7 linked regions of the Homo sapiens genome follow. The protein of the gene in region 3 purifies or fractionates together with the protein of the main gene of each other region. This does not show direct contact. Each region holds a gene or a part of one and is shown on either strand. Other genes may lie near its edges. The genes, in order: CTPS1, NTPCR, PPEF1, P4HA1, SCO1, ACSL3 and AKAP8.

The links.
Region 1: the proteins of PPEF1 (region 3) and CTPS1 purify together in Homo sapiens (affinity purification with mass spectrometry; one large-scale study listed by BioGRID and IntAct). This does not show direct contact.
Region 2: the proteins of PPEF1 (region 3) and NTPCR purify together in Homo sapiens (affinity purification with mass spectrometry; one large-scale study listed by BioGRID and IntAct). This does not show direct contact.
Region 4: the proteins of PPEF1 (region 3) and P4HA1 purify together in Homo sapiens (affinity purification with mass spectrometry; one large-scale study listed by BioGRID and IntAct). This does not show direct contact.
Region 5: the proteins of PPEF1 (region 3) and SCO1 purify together in Homo sapiens (affinity purification with mass spectrometry; one large-scale study listed by BioGRID and IntAct). This does not show direct contact.
Region 6: the proteins of PPEF1 (region 3) and ACSL3 purify together in Homo sapiens (affinity purification with mass spectrometry; one large-scale study listed by BioGRID and IntAct). This does not show direct contact.
Region 7: the proteins of PPEF1 (region 3) and AKAP8 purify together in Homo sapiens (affinity purification with mass spectrometry; one large-scale study listed by BioGRID and IntAct). This does not show direct contact.

Annotation. Positions count from the first base shown.
Region 1 is NC_000001.11:40,989,696-40,993,195, forward strand, and holds part of CTPS1 (CTP synthase 1), read left to right. Parts: intron 1-1,469; coding exon 1,470-1,553; intron 1,554-2,069; coding exon 2,070-2,150; intron 2,151-3,500. UniProt on the Homo sapiens protein: This enzyme is involved in the de novo synthesis of CTP, a precursor of DNA, RNA and phospholipids. Catalyzes the ATP-dependent amination of UTP to CTP with either L-glutamine or ammonia as a source of nitrogen.
Region 2 is NC_000001.11:232,981,611-232,984,382, forward strand, and holds the end of NTPCR (cancer-related nucleoside-triphosphatase), read left to right. Parts: 3' UTR 1-2,272; downstream 2,273-2,772. Other genes in the region: PCNX2 (pecanex-like protein 2), read right to left, coding at 2,694-2,772. UniProt on the Homo sapiens protein: Has nucleotide phosphatase activity towards ATP, GTP, CTP, TTP and UTP. Hydrolyzes nucleoside diphosphates with lower efficiency.
Region 3 is NC_000023.11:18,801,645-18,805,144, forward strand, and holds part of PPEF1 (serine/threonine-protein phosphatase with EF-hands 1), read left to right. Parts: intron 1-2,247; coding exon 2,248-2,433; intron 2,434-3,500. UniProt on the Homo sapiens protein: May have a role in the recovery or adaptation response of photoreceptors. May have a role in development.
Region 4 is NC_000010.11:73,086,867-73,090,366, reverse strand, and holds part of P4HA1 (prolyl 4-hydroxylase subunit alpha-1 isoform 2 precursor), read left to right. Parts: intron 1-3,500. UniProt on the Homo sapiens protein: Catalyzes the post-translational formation of 4-hydroxyproline in -Xaa-Pro-Gly- sequences in collagens and other proteins.
Region 5 is NC_000017.11:10,684,034-10,687,533, reverse strand, and holds part of SCO1 (protein SCO1 homolog, mitochondrial), read left to right. Parts: intron 1-691; coding exon 692-807; intron 808-3,500. UniProt on the Homo sapiens protein: Copper metallochaperone essential for the maturation of cytochrome c oxidase subunit II (MT-CO2/COX2). Not required for the synthesis of MT-CO2/COX2 but plays a crucial role in stabilizing MT-CO2/COX2 during its subsequent maturation.
Region 6 is NC_000002.12:222,923,536-222,927,035, reverse strand, and holds part of ACSL3 (fatty acid CoA ligase Acsl3), read right to left. Parts: intron 2,581-3,500; coding exon 2,441-2,580; intron 20-2,440; coding exon 1-19. UniProt on the Homo sapiens protein: Acyl-CoA synthetases (ACSL) activates long-chain fatty acids for both synthesis of cellular lipids, and degradation via beta-oxidation.
Region 7 is NC_000019.10:15,366,288-15,369,787, reverse strand, and holds part of AKAP8 (A-kinase anchor protein 8), read left to right. Parts: intron 1-1,465; coding exon 1,466-1,553; intron 1,554-3,500. UniProt on the Homo sapiens protein: Anchoring protein that mediates the subcellular compartmentation of cAMP-dependent protein kinase (PKA type II).

The sequences.
Region 1 (3,500 bases), on a different chromosome or scaffold from region 3:
AAAAAAACACCAAAAAACCAAAAATGACCTGTCATTACTATTCTTAGAAAATTAGAAGGAGATAAGCTATATCCGTTAGGTAAGAACTGGATGCTATAAGAAAGAAACATTGAGAGAACAGAAAAGAATCCTTGGAAATTAAAAATTAGATAGCAGAAATGAAAAAGTTAAGAGAAAGTAAGTTGAGGAAATACCCAAGGAAGTACAGCAAAAAGACCAAGAGATAGAAAATAGGAGAGAAAAGGTAAAATTAGAGGACTGGCTCAGAAGTTCTAATGTCCAAATAATAGGAGTTCCAAAAAATAAGAACACAGAAATGGAGGTATAATCTGAACCCCAGGGGTCAGCAAATGATGGCCTATGGGCCACATGAACCTACCCCCCCGTATTTGGAAATCAAGTTTATGGAAATACAGCTGTGTCTGCTTGTTTATGTGCTGTCTGTGGCTGCTTTTGCTCTAGAACAGTAGAGTTGAATACTTGTGGCAGAGACTGTGTGGCCCACAAAACCTAAAATACTTACTATCAGGGCCTTTACAGAAAAAATTTTCTGACCCCTTATCTGAACAATTCAAGGAAATTTCTAGACATCAGTTTCTGGGTTGAAAGGGCCCCCTTGGTGCCTATCATATTGGATGACAGATGACCTACACCAAGGCATATTATTGTGAAGGTTCAGACTAATGGGGCAGAAGTTCTAAAAGGCTCTGAAGAGAAAAATCAAGAATCATTGTGCCACTGGACCCCTTAGCAACAATACTGGAAGCTAAAAGACATTGATGCTATTTCATTAAAAATTCTAGTGGAGGCTGAGCATGGTGGCTCACACCTGTTATCTCAGCAGTTTGGGAGGCAGAGGTGGGAGGACTGCTTGAGCCTATGAGTTTGAGACCAGCCTGGGCAATGTGACAAGAGCCTGTCTCGATTTAAAAAAAAAGAAAAAGTCCAACAGAAAATGATTTCCATCCTACAAGTCCATGTGTAACGTGTATCTGTTAAGTGTGAGAGAAGAATAAAGATGATTTAGTACAGAAAGGAAAAGTGTGGCACATGGTTTGGGAACAGTATTTAAATACTTAAAAAGTATGTAAACCCAAAAGAGGACTGCAGGCACAGGAAAGTGTCTAATGGGGGCAGGATCCTCATTTAACAGGGAAATCAATAGAAAATGCCTCCAAGTAAATGTGGAGAAGTAGCACACCAGCAAGATCAGTTAAGAGTTGAAGAGCGGTTGTTTCTAGGGATTGGAAAGGGGAGAGTGGGTGAGGGCCGATACTGCTTACAAGCTCGGTTAGAACCATTTGATTCTAAAATGCATGCATGTGTAACTTTGACAAACATAAAAGCTAAATTACACAAGTGACCAAATGATCTATTTCCTTATTAAAAGAGGTTCAAGGAAAAGTCATACTTGAAAATTCCTTATCAGAGGGAAACTAACTTTTTTTTTTTTTTCTTTTGTGAAATAGCCAAGTTCAACAGGGGAACAGAAGACTAAACCTACCCAGAATAGTGTTCGGGAACTTAGAGGACTTGGGCTTTCCCCAGATCTGGTAAGATTTCCTGATAGCTGGTTGCAGTGTAATCTTTTATGTCTAGTTAAGATCACTCTATCATGACAGACAAGACCTTTGTCTTGTTGGGTTGCTTTTGATAATTGATGATGGAGAAAATAGGATTAGTTCTTTGAACCGGGCTGTAGTTTGCAAGATGTTCATACTTAGAGCGTGTTAGGTCTTGTACTCCCCAGACCTTATTTTTCCTCTCAGTCTTTTTACTCTCATTTTTACTCCTACTTGGGAACACTAATGGAGGAAAATCCCAGAGCTCTTGTAGTTCATTAATGTATTCATTTGTACTGCCATTCTCTTATGTTTCTCCAGTTTGGCGTTTACGGATTTTAGCTTTGAAACGAGTCATAATATTTTTATGGATTATGTGCCTGGTGCTGAGAGTTAACGTTTTCGTTCATCTTAACAATGTGATGTCTGTTTTAATTTCAGTCAGGAGAAACCCCTACTTCTGTCATTTTTTCCTTCTGTCTAAGCCATCTTGTTCTCTACTGCTAGGTTGTATGCAGGTGCTCAAATCCACTTGACACATCAGTGAAGGAGAAAATATCAATGTTCTGCCATGTTGAGCCTGAACAAGTGAGTAGAAATTCCCATCTCTAATAAGTTGTTTTTTGCTTCTAATTGTCCTAAAGCCTCTTGATCAGTTTCGTGAGGCTTGTTATTTTCTAATTAGAGATAGTGGGCTGTTCCAGAAGAACCCATTGCCATCGGCCATTCCCTGCCTCTCCTGGTTCCCCAAACAACACCTGTGTCCCTCCTGCCTCTTCTCCGTGCCTCGTTGTACTTTGTGCTTCAGCCGGGTGGAGTATCTTTCGGTTCCCCTAGTACCCTCCACTCTCCCTATGATTGTACTTTTTCACTGGCTAATTTCTGTTAAGAACCCATGTCCCCCTCTTCCTGTTGGCTTGGCAGTCTCCTACTCACTCTCATCCTTCAGGTTCTAGCGAAGACATAGTGTTGTCTGAGAAGCTTTAACTGCCAAACCTCCTGGCCCTTGGCCTTCAGGGTTAACTGCGTCCTTCACTGGGCTCCTGTGTGGTGTCGCATGTATGCTGCTGATGGGCCCATCTTTCTGGTGTGTGTGTGTGTGTACATGTGTGGTGTGTATCTCCCTTCACAGACTCTAAGCTTCTGGAGGGCAAGGGCCACCTCATTCAACTTTCTGTTTCTGGTGCCTGGTGTCTAGGGTGTTGTAGGCTGTCACAGAGATCTTAGTGTTTTTGTTACTGTACCTATGATGCAGGAAATCCAAAATTTGGAACCTGTAATGTATCTAAGTGTGGTGCTTAGTATGGAAATTCTAGTGGTGATACATTGAGCATGTAGCTTTGGCCAGGTTTTAGATATTTCTGGCCTAGCAAGTGAAGGAAATTCAATTCTGTAGCAGAATAGGTTGTCATTAAAATTGTTCAATTTTTTTTTTTTTTTTTTTTTTAATTGAGACAGAGTCTCGCTGTGTCGCCCAGGCTGGAGTGCAGTGGCGCGATCTTTTTGGCTCACTGTGACCTCCACCTCCCAGGTTCAAGCGATTCTCCTACCTCAGCTTCCCGAGTAGCTTGGATTACAGGTGTGCACCACCACTCCTGGCTAATTTTTGTATTTTTAGTAGAGATGGGGTTTCATTATGTTGGCCAGGCTGGTCTCAAAGTCCTGACCTCAGGTGATCCACCTGCCTCAGCCTCCCAAAGTGCTGGGATTACAGGTGTGAGGGCGCCCGGCCTTAAAAATATTCACTATTAAAAATGTAACAAGTATTTCCACATTTAAGTTTAAGTTTCAGATTTTTTGCTTTTTTTTTGAGATGGAGTTTTCACTTTTTCATCCAGGCTGGAGTGAAGTGGAGCAATCTCAGCTCAGTGGAACCTCCACCTGCTGGGTTCAAGTGATTCTCCTGCCTCAGCCTCCCGAATAGCTGGGATTATAGGC
Region 2 (2,772 bases), on a different chromosome or scaffold from region 3:
AATCAATAATGCCAAATTGGCCACATGATTTATATAAAACCAAGTGCTATGGTTTTAATATTATCTTTAGAGGAGAAACCATTTTGATCTGTGTCCAAATAACTCTTTTTTTTTTTTTTTTTTTTGAGACAGAGTCTCACTCTGTCGCTTGAGCTGGAGTGCAGTGGTGCTATCTCGGCTCACTGTAACCTCCGCCTCCTGGGTTCAAGCGATTCTCCTGCCTCAACCTCCTGAGTAGCTGGGATTACAGGCACCCGCCACCACGCCCAGCTAATTTTTTGTATTTTTAGTAGAGACGGGGTTTCACCATGTTGGCCAAGCTGGTCTCGAACTCCTGACCTCATGATTTGCCTGCCTCAGCCTACAAAAGTGCTGGGATTACAGGCGTGAGCCACCGTGCCCAGCCCCCAAATAACTCTTGAACTGGAAAATAACTCTTTAGCTATATACTGGCAGAATATTTGAACAACTCTAGCAAGAAATGTCAGTTTAGGGATGCCTCCTCTAAATGGGGGCTTAGAATATAACATTTTGCAGGAAGTCCTTTCTGATACATAGCTGACTAGATGAAGGACCAGATTAACAAGTTCATGAGTTGTAAATATAAAAGTTGTGTACCACGATAAAAAAGAAAAAGAAGTATGGCTGCACTGTTGATGGCTGGTCAAACAGCCCCCAAGAATCCTGGGGTGACTCCAATACTGCCACCTTTTCTCTGTGGGTGCAGTTGCCTGCGGATGTGTGTGCACATCTGTGCCTCGGTATGCACACTCGAGATGCCCGCTCTCATAGACGGTGCAGAGCGTCACTGCATTCCTATCTGATTAATGTGACCTTAGTGTTGTAGATACACTGTGTCACTTTCATCCTCCCTCCTCCCCACAAAAGATGCCACGAGAACTCGTGAACTGTGATAAGCAATGAACAGAATAACTGTTGAAGAAGCACCTCATGAACCTCCCCAGAGAAACGGGATGGAGGAGCACCCAGGGTGCTCTTGCTCTCTTGCCTGCGCTGCCATTTCCTTCCAGCCTGGGTTTCTAGCTCTTTGGGGAGATTCCCCGTTTTGTGGAATGCTTTCTGTGTTTCCTACTTCTGGATGCCTAAGGAGTGGCCAGTCATACTCCTGGCTGACCACTGCCAGGCACCGTGGTTTTCCTCACTGAACTCAAGGAGTCACCCTCCGTGGGGAGGCCACACTCACAGCTCCAGGCCTGCCATTTAGCCCTTGGGGCTTGGCTGTAAAGTTGCCCAAGAGGATTACAGGAGCTGCCAGCCAAGTTTAATTTGGCCACCTTAGAGAACTGCAGCAAGGCCCTATCAGCTTCCCATTAGACAAACAACTGCATTTAAATTAAATAAAGTTTGCACCTCTAGGGAGTGCTGACCTGAAAATAAGAACCTTCTGTCTGTGATTATAGAGTACACTTGCTTTTATTAATTGCTGATTCTTAGTTTACAAAAAAAAAAATTAGAAAAGCATTACCATTTACTTTCCAAGGGGCAAGAGATTCTCTACAATACCCTTCCCCCAACCCTCTCCTCAAATTTCCAAATCCTAAATACTTTGAAGAAATTTGTGTGACTGTTTAAAATTGAGTATTTCCTTCTAACTATTGTCTTTTGAAAAGGGATGGTTCACCAGGCCAGTGATACTCTATGGACTGCATTTTGGGACCTCTACCCCAGCAAGGATACAGGTTCCTGGGGTCTTGAAGATGGGAAAAGTTGTCTCAGAATTTACCCAAATGTCGTTCTCACCATAAAAGATATACTTGTAGAAATGAGAAGCTTCAGTATAACTCAAAACACTGGACGCAGCAATAACTATAAACATTTTAATTTCAAAAACAAAGGTGTGTGCGATGTTGTGTGCACAGTAAGGGTTGCGGGGCTTGGAGAACAAGCACGCGTCCCTGTGAAGCCCGCAGGGTGCTGGCGGCCCACCAATCGCCTGGACTACAGTGAGGAGCATTGTGTGACTCCGCGGTGGATTTCCATGCACCGAATGGACTCAGTTTCTAAACTCACATCCTAACGTATCCTGGCTTTTCACAGAATACTGGAGACATGACTGCATGCATGATCACGGTTCTTGTTGTGAAGCTGCCACCATGTTACGCTTAACAGCTGCATAAATATTATAAAGAAATAGGGTTTTCTTGACACTTAGATTTAACCTTAATGCATCTGCCCAGCTGATGGTATCAGACGTGCTGCTGTTCATTTCTTTTTCATGGTAACAGTAATGTATAAAGTGCCGATGATGTAACATGCAGTTGTCTTATTTTCATCAGGGCATTTGTTTCATGGCTCTGTTGAGTTGTTTTAAGTTAGTGAATGGCTTTTGAGATTTCAGATTCTGGAACATGTGTGGTGCTGTCCGCGGTGTGCCGCTCTGGGCAGCGCTGTGCCTGGCCAGGGAGGTGTGGTGTGGCTTCTTTGTTGCTTTTTTTTGTTTCCCCATCATGTGAGGTTTTTTTGTTGTTGTTGTTTGATTTTTTTTTTTTTTTTTTTTTTTTTTTCAAAAACCTGAGATCAGTTCTGTGTTCTGGAACAGCTCTCCTTTTCCACAGGAGGAGTCCCTCATGGATCGCGGTATTGGTTGGTTGTGGTGATTTGGGGAGCACGAGGGAGAGCAATGCAGGTGGGAGGTGTGGGGGAGCCAGCCTCCCCGCCCGGCCGCACGCCCGTCACTGCTCGTCTGACACACTTTGCTGCGAGGCCGTGTCGTCCAGGCCCATGTCCTCCTGGCTTGCTCTCCTGCAGACA
Region 3 (3,500 bases):
AGAGTTTTTCTCACCGCTTTAAGCTGTTATAGAAGTTTCAATAAAGAAACATTACAGGCCGGGTGCAGTGGCTCACACCTGTAATCCCAACACCTTGGGAGGCCGAGGTGGGTCGATCACCTGAGGTCAGGGGTTCGAGATCAGCCTGGCCAACACGGTAAAACCCTGTCTCTACCAAAAATACCAAAAATTAGCCAGGTGTTGTGGCGGGCCCTTGTAATCCCAGCTACTCAGGAGGCTGAGGCAGGAGAACCACTTGAACCCAGGAGGCGGAGTTTGCAGTGAGCCGAGATCATGCCACTGTACTCCAGCCTGGGTGACAGAGCGAGACTCCATCACAAAAAAAAAAAAAAGAAAAGAAAAGAAACATTACAGATAGATGAGAGCCACAAAGACGGAGCCTCCAATCTTTATGAAAAATATTATTTTGTTTTATTTTGAGATGGTGTCTTGCTCTGTTGCCGAGGCCACAGTGCAGTGGCATGAACATGGCTCACTGCAGCCTCAACCTCCTGGGCTCAGGGATCTTCTCACTTCAGCCTCCCAAGTAGCTGGGAACACATTCCGGCACCACCACACCTGGCTAGTTTTTATTTTTTAAGTTTTTGTAGAGATGGGGTTTTGCCATGTTTACCCAGGCTGCTCTTGAATTCCTGGACCCAAGCATTCCTCCTGACTCAGCCTCCCAAAGTGCTGGGATTACAGGCATAAGCCACTGTGCCTGGCAGAAAAATGATTTTAAAAATTTGGATCTTTAGTCCTGGACATCATGTAACCTGCATTTGCCTCTCCTGCGCCCCAAAGGAAATGTTATAATAATACAACACTTGTGGATTTAGAACACATTATGGAAACCAGTCATTTACTAAATGTATTGCGGAAACTGAGAATGTACTTACCATCGAGGGGGGAAAAGTGAAGGAGATGCTTTAGGAGACACCCTCAGATAAACAGGTTTCCACATTTGTGTTGGGAAACAGCAAGGGCTTCCTCAGGCTATGTGCTCAACAGGACAAAAACCTGGCCCAGAGCCACAGCAGGAGACCTACTTTATGTCTTTGAACATATTAAGACACACCTAATGTGTGGGCATTGTGGGGAGCTAATTTCTTCCCTGAATGTGACAATGAAGTTCTTTTAAGAGAAAAGAACCTTGTAGATTCAACAATTGTCAAACAATTGTGATGGAATTTTTAAAGCCAAAAAAACAAAAAAAAAATGGCAAGGCCTGATTCTTGGTTATTGTTATTGCTGTATTGGTTATTCATGGAGGAGATGAATATGAAACAATATTCTTTTTTCTTTTTCTTTTTTGCGGAGACCAGCTCAGTAGGGGAGACCCTAACCCAGCAGCGCTAGAGGAATTAAAGACACACACAGAAATATAGAGGTGTGAAGTGGGAAATCAGGGGTCTCACAACCTTCAGAGCTGAGAGCCCCAAACACAGATTTACCCACGTATTTATTAACAGCAAGCCAGTCATTAGCATTGTTTCTATAGATATTAAATTAACTAAAAGTATCCCTTATGGGAAACGAAGGGATGGGCCAAATTAAAGGAATAGGTTGGGCTTGTTAACTGCAGCAGGAGCATGTCCCTAAGGCACAGATCGCTCATGCTGTTGTTTGTGGCTTAAGAATGCCTTTCAGCGGTTTTCCGCCCTGGGCAGGCCAGGTGTTCCTTGCCTTCATTCCCGTAAACCCACAACCTTCCAGCGTGGGCGTTATGGCCATCATGAACATGTCACAGTGCTGCAGAGATTTTGTTTATGGCTAGTTTTGGGGCCAGTTTATGGCCAGATTTTAGGGGGGCCTGCTCCCAACAATTTTGAGACAGGGTCTCTGTCTGTCACCCAGGCTGGAGTGCAGTGGAGTGATCATGGCTCACTGCAGCCTCAACCTCTCAGGCTCAAGTGATCCTCCCATCTCAGCCTCCCTAGTAGCTGAGACTATAGGCATGCACCACCATGCCTGGCTAATTTTTGTATTTTTTGCAGAGTTGAGGTCTCACCATGTTGCCCAGGCTGGGCTTGAACTCCTGGCCTCAAGCACTCCTCCCACCTCAGCCACCCAAAGTGCTGGGATCACAGGCATGAGCCACCACGCCAGGCCTGAAACAATTTTCAAGGAAGAATGAGAAGTGGTCTTTGGGATACCTTGGGTTAATATTTCTGACAAATAAGTTGGAATCTAGAAAGATATACTCTCACTTGTAAGTTACAGCGAAATCTGGTTTGTTGTTCCAAGATTATTGATATTCTGTGGAGTGATCCCAGAGGCAAAAATGGCTGTTTTCCAAATACGTGCCGAGGAGGGGGCTGCTATTTTGGACCAGATGTTACTTCCAAGATTCTTAATAAATACCAGTTGAAGATGCTCATCAGGTCTCATGAATGTAAGCCCGAAGGGTATGAAATCTGTCATGATGGGAAGGTAAGCTAAAATTGTTGGTGACATTCCCATAAACATCCTTCCCCTAAGCACAGTCTTTTCTTCACAGAGCATGTCTGGCCTAGAAGCCCATGAGAAGATGTCTTCTCTAGTACCAAACAGAAACCAGAGAAGGCGAGCTTCATCTAGGTTGTTTGAAGGGGCCTCACTGTCCCTTATCCTAAAAGATATTTGGTTTATTTCCCTGATCTTCCCTAATCCCAGAAACAGAAATTCTTTTTTTTTTTTTGAGATGGAGTCTCACTCTGCCACCCAGGTTGGAGTGCAGTGGTGTGATCTCAGCTCACTGCAACCTCCGCCTCCCGGGTTCAAGTGATTCTCGTGCCTCAGCCACCCAAGTAGCTGGGATTACAGGTGTGCGCCACCACACCCAGCTAATTTTTGTATTTTTAGTAGAGACAGGGTTTCACCATGTTAGCCAGACTGGTCTCAAACTCCTGACCTCAGGTGATCCGCCTGCCTCGGCTTCCCAAAGTGCTGGGATTACAGTCGTGAGCCACCGCGCCTGGCCCCAGAAACAGAAATTCTGATACATGGCACTAAGTAGACACACAGAAAGGCTTGGTTCTTATAAGGCAACTGTCCCATACAGTGGGGTTGAGAATGTCCTTTTCCTCACAGAGCGCATAAAAGGCAGCAGTGAATCCAGTTTGCTCTTGCACTTTTTACATGTTCCCTGTGCAGGGCCCAAAACACAAAACACACTTCCCTTCAGCTCCCTGAGTAGGTGACCTCCAGCAAGTTGCTCACTGTAGTCAGTTTAGCTGCAGCCACTAAAACGGAGTGTGTTGTGTTCCTTCAGTGGTGTCTGATCAAAGGCTAAAAGAGGTGAGGACCGAGGAGCTGGTTTCTTGTCCCAAGTTGTTCTGGGATGCACCGTTTCTTTTTTTTTTCTTTTTTCTTTTTTTTGAGACAGAGTCTCGCTGTGTTGTCCAGGCTGGAGTGCAGTGGTGCAATCTCGGCTTACTGCAACCTCCGCCTCCCGAGTTCAAGTGATTCTCTTGCCTCATGCTCCCGAGAAGCTGGGATTACAGGCGCCCGCCACTACG
Region 4 (3,500 bases), on a different chromosome or scaffold from region 3:
AGCCCAGGAGTTCCAGACCAGCCTGGGCGACATAGAAAGACTTCATCTCTACACAAAATAAAATAACATTAGCTGGGTGTGATGGTGCCTGCCTGTAATCCTAGCTACTTGGGAGGCCGAGGCAGGAGGATTGCTTGAGCTGGGGAGGTTGAGTCTTCAATGAACTGTGATTGTGCTACTGTACTCCAGCCTGGTGACCGAAATGAGTCTCTGTCTCAAAAAAGAGTATACTTGGCCAGGCGCAGTGGCTCACACCTGTAATCCCAACACTCTGGGGGGCCGAGGCAGGAGGACTGCTTGAGCCCAGAAGTTCAAGACCAGCCTGCGCAACATGGTAAAACCCTGTCTCTACAAAAAAATTAAAAAGCCAGGTGTGGTGTTGTGTGCCTGCAGTCCCCGCTACTTGGGAGACTGAGGTGGGAGACTCACCCAAAGCCTGGAGATTAAGGCTGCGGTGAGCCAAGATCACGCTACTGCACTCTAGCCGGGGCATCGGCAGTATCCTTATGACTTTTTGTAATCCCTTCTTTTGCTCCTTACTACCCTCTCTGTATCCCTAGGAAACCATTGTTTCCTTTCTGTTGCTTAAGATTAGTTTTTATTTTCTAGAATTTTATAAAAATGGAATTGTATATACGCTTTTTTTTTTTTTTTTTAGCACGGGGAATCTCCTTACACTCAGCATAATTTGAGATTCATCCATGTTGTTATGTGTTCATAGTTTTTTATTGTTGAATAGTATTTTATTTTATGAATATACCATGATTTTTTTTAACCCATTTACCCTTTGATGGACATTTGGATTGTTTTCACTTTTTGACTATTATGAATAAAGCTGCTATGAGCATTCATGTACAAGTTGTTGGAGAGAGATATGCTTTCTTTTCTCTTATATTAATGCCTAGGAGTGCAATAGCTAGATGTGATAGGGAAATATTTTTTCCCAGTTGTTGGCTTGTCTTCATTCTTTAAACAGTGTGCTTCAAAGAGCAGTTTCTATTCACAGACAACATGTCTGTGACTCTTCAAAAAAGCTCTAGTGAATAGGTTAATTCAGCAGAGTTGTAGCTTAGAAGGTCAATATACAACAGTAAATTGTATTTCTATATACTAATAATGAACAATTAGAAACTAAAGTGAAAAATTCCCATCTCATTAGCACTAAAAACCATGAAATACTTAAGTATTAACTTTTCAAATGGTGTGTAATATTTGTATGTTGAAAATTATGAAACACTGATTATATCATGTTCATGGATTAGAAGACTCAGTATTAAGATACCTACTCTTCTCAAACTGATTTATAGATTCAGCACATTTCTAGTCCAAATCTCAGAGGATTTCTTATAGAAATTAATGAGCCGATTCTAAAATTAATATGGAAAACCAAAGGAACTAGAAAAGCTAAAACAATTTTGAAAAAGAATAACAAAGTTGGAAGATTCATACTACCTGATTTCAACTTAGTTTAAAGCTGCAATAACCAAGACTGTGGTATTGGAGAAAAGATAGACATACAGATCAATTGAACAAAATAGAGAATTTAGTCACACAAAAATTGTCAATTCATTTTGAAAAAGTTTAAGGGCAGTTCAACAGAGGATAGTCTGGAACAGTTGAATATTCATATGCAAAGAAAAAACAATCTTTGTTTTATTTGGGCACCAAGTATCCACTGTTGGACACTGGGCAGTCCCTTGCCCAGGAATTTATGTGAATATTGGGACAAGTGACATGAATCCACCAGTGGATATGAAATAAAGTTTAATCACACAGTAAACAGCAAAAGGACTCCTCAAGGTCAAGGACTTAGGTTTAGTCCAGGATGAAGCAAGAGTGAAACAGGGTGGGTGGCTTTGGTTTTTATTGACCAGAAGGTGGAACTTGTTTGATGGTCCCCATGTGTGGTATTTACATGGTTTCAACTTCACACCAGTACCAAGGGAGGGAATACTGGTCCCCAAGTGTGGTATTTATATGGTTTCAACTTTACACCAATACCAAGGGAGGGAGTACCTGGGCTTTCTTACAGACTTACCCAGATGTGGGACAAAAGGGAGAGAGGTGTGGGACCTGAAGGCAATCTGCACTCAAACATCAAAATGAAATCTTTTTATTAGAGCCTCAATCTGTACTTGACACTGTATGCAAAAATTAGTTCAAAATGGTTCGTAGGCCGGGTCTGGTCGCACACGTTTGTAATCCCAGCATTTTGGGAGGTTGAGGCAGGAGGATTGCTTGAGCCCAGGAGTTTGAGACTAGCCTTGGCAAGAGTGAGACCCGTTTCTATTTTAAAAAATGTTCATAGATTGTGAAGTAAAATGTACAGCTATAAAATATTTGAAAGAAAACATAGGACAAAAATATTTTTGACCATGGGTCAGGCAGAGATTTCTTGGACATGATGCCAAGAACATGATTCATAAATGAACAAACTGATAAATTAGACTTCATCAAAATTAAGAAATTCTGCTCTTCCAAACACACTGTTGAGAGAATAAAAAGACTTCACAGACTGGGAGAAAATATTCCCCATCACATATCTGACAAAAAATAGACTGTATAAGGAACTCAAAGCTGGGCATGGTGGCTCACGTCTGTAATCCCAGCACTTTGGGAGGCCAAGACTGGAGGATTGCTTGAAAATCCAGGAGTTTGAGACCAGCTTGGGCAACATAGCAAGACCCCATCTCTATTAAAAAAAGTAAACAACCTAATTAAAAAGAGCAAAAGATTTGAGTAGACACTATGCAGGAAGGTGTATGAACAGCAGATAAACACCCCAAAAGGTGTTAAACATAGGCCAGGCATGGTGGGTCATGCCTGTAATCCCAGCACTTTGGGAAGCTGAGGTGGGTGGACCATCTGAGGTCAGGAGTTCAAGACTAGCCCGGCCAACATAGCGAAACCGTCTCTACTAAAAATACAAAATTGGTCAGGTGTGGTGGCACGTGCCTGTAATCCCAGCTACCTAGGAGGCTGAGACACGAGAATCACTTGAACCCAGGAGGTGGAGGTTGCAGTGAGACAAGATTGTGCCACTGCATTCCAGCCTGGGCGACAGAGTGAGACTCTGTCTCAAAAAAAAAAAAAAAAAATAAAGGCATTAAACATCATTAGTAATTATGGAATTGCAAATTAAACCCATAATGAGATAGTACTATATGTCTATTGTGAAAATTAAGATATTAAGAGAAACTAAGGAAAAAACGGCAATACAAAATGCTGGTAAGAATGGGAGCAATGGAAACTTTCATCCTTTGCTGTTGGAAGGGCAAATAGTGTAGCTACTTTGGAGAAACGTTTGGCAGTTTTTTATGAAGGTAAATATATACTTGTCATATGACCCAACATTCCCGCTCCTAGGTATTTACCCAAGTGAAATGAGAACTTAGGTTGATTTCCTCTTTTTTTTTTTTTTTTTTTTTTTTTTGAGATGCACTCTCACTCTTTTACCCAGGCTGGAGTGCAGTGACACAATCTCGGCTCACTGCAACCTC
Region 5 (3,500 bases), on a different chromosome or scaffold from region 3:
ACCTTTAGAAAAAGGAACTGCTGTTAAATGTTGGGCTGTCATTTCAGTAGTTTGATGAATCCAGTTGTTTTAAGTGACCTCTACCGGTTCACTTACATGAATTCCAAAAACTTAATAGCAGATACACGCTGTGAATGATTTGCCCTTATTTCAGAACTTTGTTAAGATTGCGTTTTGGGGATGACTAGTATTAATTAACCAGTTTTTTTAAATCAGAAGTAAAGAGTAGAACTTGATACCAGTGTTGAAATTATTTGCAGGAAAATAAGACACAGGTATTTTGACCTGATATGAACTTAGTTATGAAGCAAATTTTTTTCCCCATATGATGCCATGAAAAGTTATAGTATTTAATTTATGATAATAATTTTAAGCTTTAGTATATCTGAGAACTACATGTGACTACTCCTTAAAAATCAATTTAAAATGTGATACAAGTGATTAGAAAATATTCCCTCCAGGTCTTTACTAGATAGTCATAAAAAGATTTGACTTATATATTACAAAGGAGAATTTTCATTTGTTCTTTGTGAATTTCTTCTCCTTTTCCTTTGAATCGTGAAGAAATGTTTGGAGACTCACAGGAAGAAAGTGGCAGTAGAGCTGCTTTACAACTGATACATTTTTTGAAGTAGAGATGGTTGTTTTACTGGCTTCTCATTTTTCACTGTCTCTCTCATTTTTTATTTAGAATTTTCTCCCAAACTGGTTGGCTTGACTGGCACGAGAGAAGAGGTCGATCAAGTGGCCAGAGCATACAGAGTGTATTACAGCCCTGGCCCCAAGGACGAAGATGAAGACTACATAGTGAGTAAATGTTCCAGTTTTAACCCATGGACCAGCTCCCAGATCCCAAATAGTCATAAGGCTTTCAATGACTGACTAGCTTCTGAGAAGAGAGAATACCTAAGATTATTGCAAAGTCCTTAGGAATTTTTTTTTTTTTTTTTTTGAGATGGAGTCTCATTCTGTCATCCAGGCTGGAGTGCAGTGGCACAATCTTCGCTCACTGCAACCTCCGCCTCCCAGATTCAAGCAATTCTCCTATGTCAGCCTCCCGAGTAGCTGGGATTACAGGTGCGCGCCACCACACCTGGCTACTTTTTTATATTTTTTGGTAGAGACGGGGTTTCACCACGTTGGCCAGGCTGGTCTCGAACTCCTGACCTTACCCGCCTCAGCCTCCCAAAGTACTGGGATTACAGACGTGAGCCACCGCATCCAGCCTCCTTAGGAATTTTGAATATTTGAAAGGATAATAGAAGCATGTTTTTTACTTTTTATTTATTTTCGAGACGGAGTCTCACTCCGTCAGCCAGGCTGGAGTGCAGTGGTGCGATCTTGGCTCACTTCGACCTCCGCCTCCCGGATTCAAGCAATTCTCCTCCCTCAGCCTCTCGCGTAGCTGGGATTACAGGCATGTGCTCCCACGCCTGGCTAGTTTTTGTATTTTTAGTAGAGAAGGAGTTTTGCCATGTTGGCCAGGCGAGGCCAGGGGGTCTCGAATTCCTGACCTCAGGTGGTCTGCCCTGCCCACCTCAGCCTCCCAAAGTGCTGGGATTACAGGCCTGAGCCACTGCGCCCAGCCAGAAGCAGTTTTTTAAAAGATGATTGTTTGATTTATATTCACTGTTCTCATAATTCAATTGCCTGTTTTTCTCTTATAGTGGCATATAGGATTTTAGGGCAGTTTAAAACCAGATACTTGGGTGCCATGTTGGAAATAAAGAGAAGCCATCATTTGGAACAACACTTATTTTAAAAAGATTGTGTTGGTTCTCACTGTGTCCCCAGTAGAGGTATCAGAAATTGCTCTTCTGGAGAACCAGTTTTAGGCCATGGAGAACTGCATTTTTAGGTTGAATGAGAATTCTGAAAAGCAAAAGATGAAAGGTTTATTTGCCCATTGACTATATGCCTTGGACAGTTAGGCGTTAAATATGTGCTTTTTAATGATAAGGAACAGAAATTCTGTTGTACTTGTGTAGCTCTTAAATTAACTATCTTCATATTCATCAGCACTGCCCCAGAAGCCTTAAGGTCATGCCCAAGTTACTGTGTTTCTTTTCTTGTCAGTGGTTTCACAGTGAAGCACCAAAAGGCATTAGCACCACCACTATCCACCAATTTTCCTCTCAATTTGGACATTTTTCTCCTATCATATGAAGAGTCGGCGTTGTATTTTAGCATTATTTCAGTATTTTTCTTAGTTGTCATACTCTGTTTTTTCTATAATATTGTTTGGGCAGAGTAATCCTAAGAGCCTTTCTAGCTGTGAAGCTGTCTTTGTAGAAAGAAAGATGGCCAAGACCCTGAGTCACTGATCCAGCAGCTCCCCATGGCCCATCCCAAGAGTTGAGATGCAGAGGGGATGGGATGTCTCACTGCAGTGCTTTGTCTCAACAGCCAACTATGATTTCTTTGTCCCTTTGAACCTGGAACGTGTGTGCCCCTGGAGCCTACAGCCTGAATTAAAAGCAAGGTTCTGGCCTGTTTGCCTTAATTAAGCCTACACAGTAATCCTGTCTTCCAGATGTGGTGCCTCGTAGAATTAGGGAAACTTGGATTCCTTGGAGTAAAAGATGAGAAAAATGAGCACTTTTCTTTAAGCCTTAATTGTAAGGAAAGTAGAGGGACCCTCCTCTGTTTTCCTCTTGCTGCTTCTCTAGCAGAATGAGAGAAGAGCAGAGAGCCACAGTGGCCAAAAGAGGAAACCATAGGAAAAGGACTTTCCGGACTTCTGTCTTTATAGAGAGTTGTATTAACTGGTTTTGAGTTTATCCGATGATGACAGCAGGAATAGATGAGCTCATCAGTCTGATTTCCAGCATTAAATGAGTTATATTAAATTGTTTAAATGTATACAGTCCTAAACTAGGTAACACTCCATAGTCTTGATGCTTAGAACTCATAACTCAGAGTCAGAAAGTCAAATCAGAAAGCAGTTGTACAAATAAACCCAAACAGCCTGCAAAACTTAAATTGAAAACATTCAGTTACATTGACAAGAGATTTTGCTGAAACCAAAGTGCTGCTCAGGGCAAGAAGGGAGGGGGTTTTGGTCAGACTGCTATCACATACCCAACTCTACTCAACTGCCCCTCTGCATTTTCTATTTAAAATACTTTGAAACCTTTAATCGTGTAGCCTGCCTTGCCTGGTTAGTGTTGATTTGGCAAGAATGTATCATATTCATGTCTGCCTGTAACAGCAGTGGGCAGCTAGGTGCCAGTGAGATCATGGAGCAAACACAAGCCTGGGCACTGAAATTTATACTCACAACACAGATAATCCAGAATATGGATATTAATGTTTTTAATTACAAATGAAAACAAAAATATGTAAGTCTTATGGAAACTTCTTGGACCTTGTAGAATGTATCTTTGGCCCCATTTTGAGAAATACTGGCCTACTGCCATAAGAATTTGACTTTTGATGAGATTCGATGAGGAATTCATGCTGTACATTTGCTAAATCATCCAATAGGGGGAGACATTCTT
Region 6 (3,500 bases), on a different chromosome or scaffold from region 3:
AACTTTCCGGAAAACAAAGCTAAAGAAAAAAATTAGAGAACCACAGGATTTTAAAACTGAATGGGATTTTCCAAATCACTTAAACTAATCCCCCAGTTTTGATATGAGAGATTTTGAGATTAAGTTACTTATCCAAGGTCACACAGCCAATTTGGAGAGTCTCTTGAGCCCCAAATGTTAATTTTTTGAAGTTCAACAAGGTAAAGAATTTATTATTTCCTCTTAAGAGCTTTTCAAGTGATATTCGAATTTGAATTGTCAGGTTTAGTTTTGTATAGTGACAGGAAAACCCTTGCTTATGGCCACTTTTATATCATTATTTACATAAAATATTTATCATATATTAATACTGAACAATTCTATCATCTTTATGAAATGTATTAAAATCAAATTAATTTTTGCTTTAATGTACTTTATTAGAAATGTGTATAATTTGTATACCACAATCTGTTTTTGAAGTTTCACTAATTCAAGCTTTGAATTGTTTGTTAAAAATAATCTAGTAAATTATCTGTGAAGCATTTAAAAAAGGAAACAAGTTAAACATCTAATTGATGTTTCTGAAAATACACTAATACAAAGATTGCATACTGCCTTGATCAAAAAGGAGAGGTAGTACTTAAAAAAAAAAATCTTTGCAAAAGGTGAAGACTACACGGTGACAATTTTTTAAAAATGGTATTAACAGACTTTTCAAATCAGCTTTTACAGTTATCCCTTGGCATCCAGTCCTCTGGATACCAAAACCCTCAGATGCCTAAGTCCCTTATATAAAACGGCATAGTATTTGCATAAAGCCTACACACATCCTCCAAAATACTTTAAATTATCTCTAGATTACTTATAATACCTAATACAATATAAATTCATTGTAAATAGTTGTTATACTGTATTTTCTTTTCCACTGTTATATTTTATTGTTTTTTCCCCAGAATACTTTTGATCCACGGTTGGTTGAATCTAAAGATGTGGAACCTGTTGATACAGAGGGCCGACTTTACAACTCACTGAAGAAATAACTAACGTAAGGCAGGAAAAAAACTTACAAAGTTCTAAATTATGTGAAGCATCTGAAAACTATATTAATATTACCATAAAAAATACTTTGAATGTCATACTTCCATTTTCTAACTTCTAAGCTATTTTATGATCAAATCATAAATCTATGTACTCTATTAACACTACACAAATACAAGCTGGAACAAAACTGATCATTTAAAGCTTTAAATACAAAACATTTAATTATATTCATACTGAAATAAATATAAAAGCAAAAGAGAAACTATTTCTCAAAATAATTAAAACTCCCTAAGTGTTCACAGAAAATATAAACTCACAAATAGCAAAATCTTAAGTGAAAACACACTTTTAATGACATTGCAGGTTTTTTAAACTGCTCATACTATTACAAAGGTTTTTTGTTTGCTTGTCTTTTAAAGAGACAGAGTCTCACTTTCACCCAGGGTGGTGTGCAGTGGTGCAGTCATTGCTCCCAGGCCCAAATAATCCTCCCACTGGGGGCCCAAACAATCCTCCTACTTCAGTCCCTGAAGTAGCTGGGATTACAGATATATGACACCATGCCCAGCTAAGCAGAGAAGGAATCTTGCTATGTTGCCCAGGCTGGTCTTGATTTCCTGGCCTCAAGCAATCCTCCCATGTCAAGATGGATTTTTTTTTTTTTTTTTTTTTTGAGACAAGAGTCTCGCACTCTGTCACCCAGGCTGGAGTGCAGTGGCACGATCTCGGCTCACTGCAACCTCTGCCTCCCGAGGGAGTTCAAGCAATTCTCCTGCTTCAGCCTCCCTAACAGCTGAGACTACAGGCACATGCCACCACTCTGGCTAATTTTTGTAATTTTAGTAGAGATGTGGTTTTGTCACGTTGGCCAGGCTGGTCTTGAATTCCTGACCTCAGGTGATCTGCCCGCCTTGGCCTCCCAAAGCACTGGGATTACAGGAGTGAGCCACCGTGTTCAGCCAGGATGGATTTTTTTTTTTTTTTTGAGACGGATTCTCGCTCTGTCGCCCAGGCAGACAGATCGTGCAGTGGCGCAATCTTGGCTCACTGCAAGCTCCGCCTCCTGGGTTCGCACCATTCTCCTGCCTCAGCCTCCTGAGTAGCTGGGATTACAGGCGCCCGCCACCAAGCCCCGCTAATTTCTTTTTGTGTTTTTAGTAGAGACGGGGTTTCACTGTGTTAGCCAGGATGGTCTCGATCTCCTGACCTCATGATCCACCTGCCTCGGCCTCCCAAAGTGCTGGGATTACAGGCATGAGCCACCGCGCCTGGCCTGGGATGGATTTTTTTTAAAGAGTTCTCTTGACTTTATGAAATATATTTCTTTCTTATAACTATCTCAATTAATTGGGCTATTAATGTGAACTAAATGATTAAATTATCAAGAGGAGAAAGAAGGAGGTAGAGAGTCTTTACTTACCTGTCGCACAGTGGAGTATTACGTCCTTTTGAAATCTGTTCCATTTTGTAATTATAGGCCAGAATAAACAGATTACGTTGAAAACTACTCATTTCACTGACTTTATTCATGACATTTTTGTAGATCCGATCCATGATTTCCTAAATGTATAAAAATGAGTTTAACATAGTTAATAATAACAGCTGCCTTACATATTCACTTAGCATTAGATTAACATTTCTAGCAATATTAAGGCATTTTAAAAGAAGTACTCTTCAACTGTGGATGTGATTCAGCAAGAAGGAAAAAACCTTTTGTGAATTTTTCAAAAAGATGTATCCTATCAAGATCAAACTTTTAAAATCGAACCACAATTAGTTTAAAAATAAAGTTTCCACAAAAATAATTTTTAAAAGCAGAAATATATCTAGATACTCATATAAATTGTAAGATATTCTTTATATTGCTTTGCTTATCTTACTAATTCTGAACTAAAACCTACTCACAAAATAAACGAACAACCGTCTGAAATGGTTTTTCAAAATGTCCTAACTTTATCTTATAAAAATATACAGTACCACATTCTTTGCTCACAAAAAGACCATGCAACGTTTGGGAGTTTTTGTTTGGCTATTTGACTTTCGATATTGCACCAGGAAGTTTTCCTTGTCTGTGCTGCATTTTGCTTGCTAGGTCCATTACTGTGAAGTATACTTTAATGACTTAAAATAATGTTTCCTCCACAACTTTAAATTGTACGTCATTTTTAAGTGAACTAAGAATTTAAGTTGGATACTAAAGAAACTATAATTATAGAAAGAAACTACTGATTATTTATATTTGACTTTGAAGTAACTATGTAATTATTCTTGACGTAAGCATTTAGGTACCCGACAATAATTCCCATCATTTCCAAACAAACTCAGCCTATGTTATAAGGAGCCAGAAAATCACTGCTGCCCCATTTCCCTTGTCTTATTCCCAGGCCCCTATATTATGTAAGGATGAACAGCCCCTCTTAAGTCATTCAAAGCTGCACCAGCTTCTCTGTCACTTTGTTTGGTGTTTAGGCCAGACTTTC
Region 7 (3,500 bases), on a different chromosome or scaffold from region 3:
AGTGTTTTCTCTGGGGCTTCCTTTTGTCCAGTTCCTTCAGTCGCCTGCCCTGGGCTGTGCTGTGGGCCTCTGTGGTGGGGATACTGGCAGCTGCACTGCACATTGCTTCGTGCCTGCGAGTGTGTGACAGCAGACACCTGCGGGGTCGGGAGCACCCAGGCCCACTGGGTCTTTGAGAGGCGGGCGCCCTTCAGCAGGTCTCTTCATGTCCAATGCAGGAGACCAGAGGGTCTGCAGCAACAGCAGAGCAGGCTTAAATCCCTCATGGCAGAGCGGCCTGAGGTGCCGCGGCCTGGAGCTCACCCTGAAGCCACTCGTTTCTTTACCTGTCCTGTGGGTCTTTCCGTAGCTGGTTACCCCAAGGATCATAGGCTGGCTCCTCAGTGGCCCTGCTCCCATCCATTCTGAAGGCCCTTGGCTTAGATGTTCCTCCTGTTCAGGCTTTGCCAGCCCTCTGCGGTCCTCCCCCCCGCGACCCGCAGCAGTCCTGTCCATAGCACGGGGCGCCCCGAGCGCTTAGCGGCACAATGCTAAAGCAAAGGTGACATGTCTGTTGCGCGCAGGTCCTGCTACCTACCCGGGATGACTTTGCTATTAAACAGCAGTCATAGTTTCAGGCAGTGACCTCTTGCCAAAAATCCCACACGCCCTTTTGAGAGGCTTCTGAGCAGCGCACGCCGGTCGCCATCTTCGTGGGACAGTCTCGGGACTGGCATCAGGGGTAGGGGTTACAGTTCAGATGCTTCTCCAACCTTTTTTCAGCGTCCGTCCCTGGCCTCATGCTGGGATGATGGCCGCGTGGCTCTCCGAGGAGCTCCTCTGCTGGCCCCGGGGGACGGACGGGAGGACCAATTGGTCTCTTCCCAAATTTTTTTCTAGGATTGCTTCCCACGCAGCCCTGGGAAAGCCCTAGATTGACGGTTTTTGTGAGTGGAAGATAGAGGTCGGGCCAGCAAGGACTGTCAGACCTGCTGAGGCCCTAGTTCAGACGGGGCCGCCAGGACGCTCGTCACAGTCCACCTAGAGGTGGGATAGAGGGCGGCGGAGCAGCTGCTTCACTTCCTGAGGCCTTCAGCTGCCGCCTCTTCATCCGGGGAGAATTGGCTTCTCCTGTGATATTGGGAGAAGACCCCATCGCAGGGCATGAGATTGGACAAGCAGAATGGGGAGGACAGAGGGAGCAGGGGGCTGTGGTGCACATGGGGTGGGCAGGCTGTGTCCCTAGCCCATCCTGGCCGCCTCAGGCCATGTGGGGAGTTTGGTGACTACTCCGGGCTCTCACTCCAGGCCCGTGTCCACCAGGAGTCTCTGACAGTGCCTTGGGGCATCCTGGACCCTGCCGCGTGGTGCAGGCAGTGGCAGGGCACAGGGTGCGGTGGCCAAGCTGCAGCCCCCCGACCAGGCCCTGGAGCTCAGCTCCTTTGCAGGCCACTCAGAGCGTCTCGAAGGGACTTGTCTGTTACAGGAGAGAAGGAGGACGAGGACGAGGATGTGAAGAAGAGAAGGGAAAAGCAAAGGAGAAGAGACAGGACGCGGGACCGTGCAGCCGACAGGTGAGGCGCGGGCACACGACCCCACAGGAGGAGGTGGACTCGTGCGGTGGAGGCGCTGCCGAGCTCACCTGTCCTCGCTCCACAATGCTGGGGGCCTGGTGGCCTGACTCCTCTGGCCAAACCAGTGGGAGGCAAAACAGTAAACAATTGGGAGTGCAGAAAAGACCATCACTCGTGCTCCCAGCACACGAGCTACCTGTCTTCTAGGATGGCTGGGACGTTGCTTTGGTGGTTAGGTTTCTGTTCTTGCTTTAGAGGATTGGTGTTTGACTCCTGTGTCTCTATTCCTCTGGAATCCCAGCCTTGCTGGTGGGTCTGTGTGGTCCATAACTGCTCAGCAGCGGGCTCTGTTACTCTCCTGCAGGCCTGAGGGGCATCCCTGCCCCCTAGCCTGGTGTCTGGCATCTCAGACACTGTCCTGTGTTCACCTTATCCAAATCCAGACCACCCCTGGAGTTTGACACAGCTAGGAGACAGGTAGAGAGATGATCCTACCATCAAGATTTTGTCCCACAATAGAAAAGGATTGCAAAAATGTTGAGCCCAAAGGATGTCATTGTGAGCACACCATGTGCCTGCCTCTCCCTGCCAGGAGTTAAGTGGCTTCTGACTAGAAACTGAAATCACCAGTGATCATGTGATGCTGGGGAATCCTTGACCTTAAGGTTCACATGGGACAGTGATTTTCTTTTTGTTTGTTTGTTTCTGAGATGGAGTCTTGCTCTGTCGCCCAGGCTGGAGTGCAATAGCATAATCTCGGCTCACTATAACCTCTGCCTCCTAGGTTCAAGCGGTTCTCCTGCCTCAGCCTCCCGAGTAGCTGGGATTACAGGCGCCTGACACCACGCCTGGCTAATTTTTGTATTTTTAGTAGAGGTCGGGATTCACCGTGTTGGCAAGGCTGGTCTTAAACTCCTGATCTTGTGATCTGCCCGCCTTGGCCTCCCAAAGTGCTGGTATTACAAGCGTGAGCCACTGCGCCCAGTCTGGGCAGTGATTGTCGTGTTCAAAGAAATGCTTAGTAAAAGGGGCCAGATGCCGTGGCTCACACATGTAATTCCAGCACTTTGGAAGGCTGAGCTGGCGGATCGCTTGAGGCCGGGAGTTCAAGACCAGCCTGGTCAATATGGTGAAACCCATCTCTACTAAAATTACAAAAATTAGCCAGGCATGGTGGCAGGTGCCTGTAATCTCAGCTACTCGGGAGGCTGAGGCAGGAGAATCACTTAAACTGGGGAGGTGGACTTTGTAGTGAGCCAAGGTTGCACCACTGCACTCCAGCCTGGGCGACAGAGCAAGACTCTGTCTCAAAAAGAAAAAGAAACGGGCTGGGGGCAGTGGCTCACGCCTGTAATCCCACCACTTTGGGAGGCCAAGGCAGGCGGATCACCTGAGGTTGGGAGTTCGAGACCAGCCTGACCAACATGGAGAAACCCAGTCTCTACTAAAAATACAAAATTCGTCCGGCATGGTGGCGCATGCCTGTATTCCCCGCTGCTCGGGAGGCTGAGGCAGGAGAATTGCTTGAACCCAGGAGGTGGAGGTTGCAGTGAGCCAAGATCACACCACTGCATTCCAGCCTGGGCAACAAGAGCGAAACTCTATCTCAAATAAAAACTCCATCTCAGTGAGCCGAGATTGTGCTACTGCACTCCAGCGTGGGCGACGGAGCAAGACTCCATCTCAGGAACAAAAAAAAAAAAAGAAAATCACTGTTCCATGTGAACCTTAAATCAAGGATTCAAAAAAAAAAGAGAGAAATGCTTAGCAAAACGAAGCCAGGAACCAAACGCAGAACTGTTTCTTCTTAAGTGGTACAGGAACATTGAAACCCTTGTTATTTTAAACAGATAAATGGATAGAGTAGATGACTTTTCATGTCACATGGAAACTGAGATGACATTTTCTTTTTAATTATTTTTAAACTTAAATAATCTAATAAAGAGA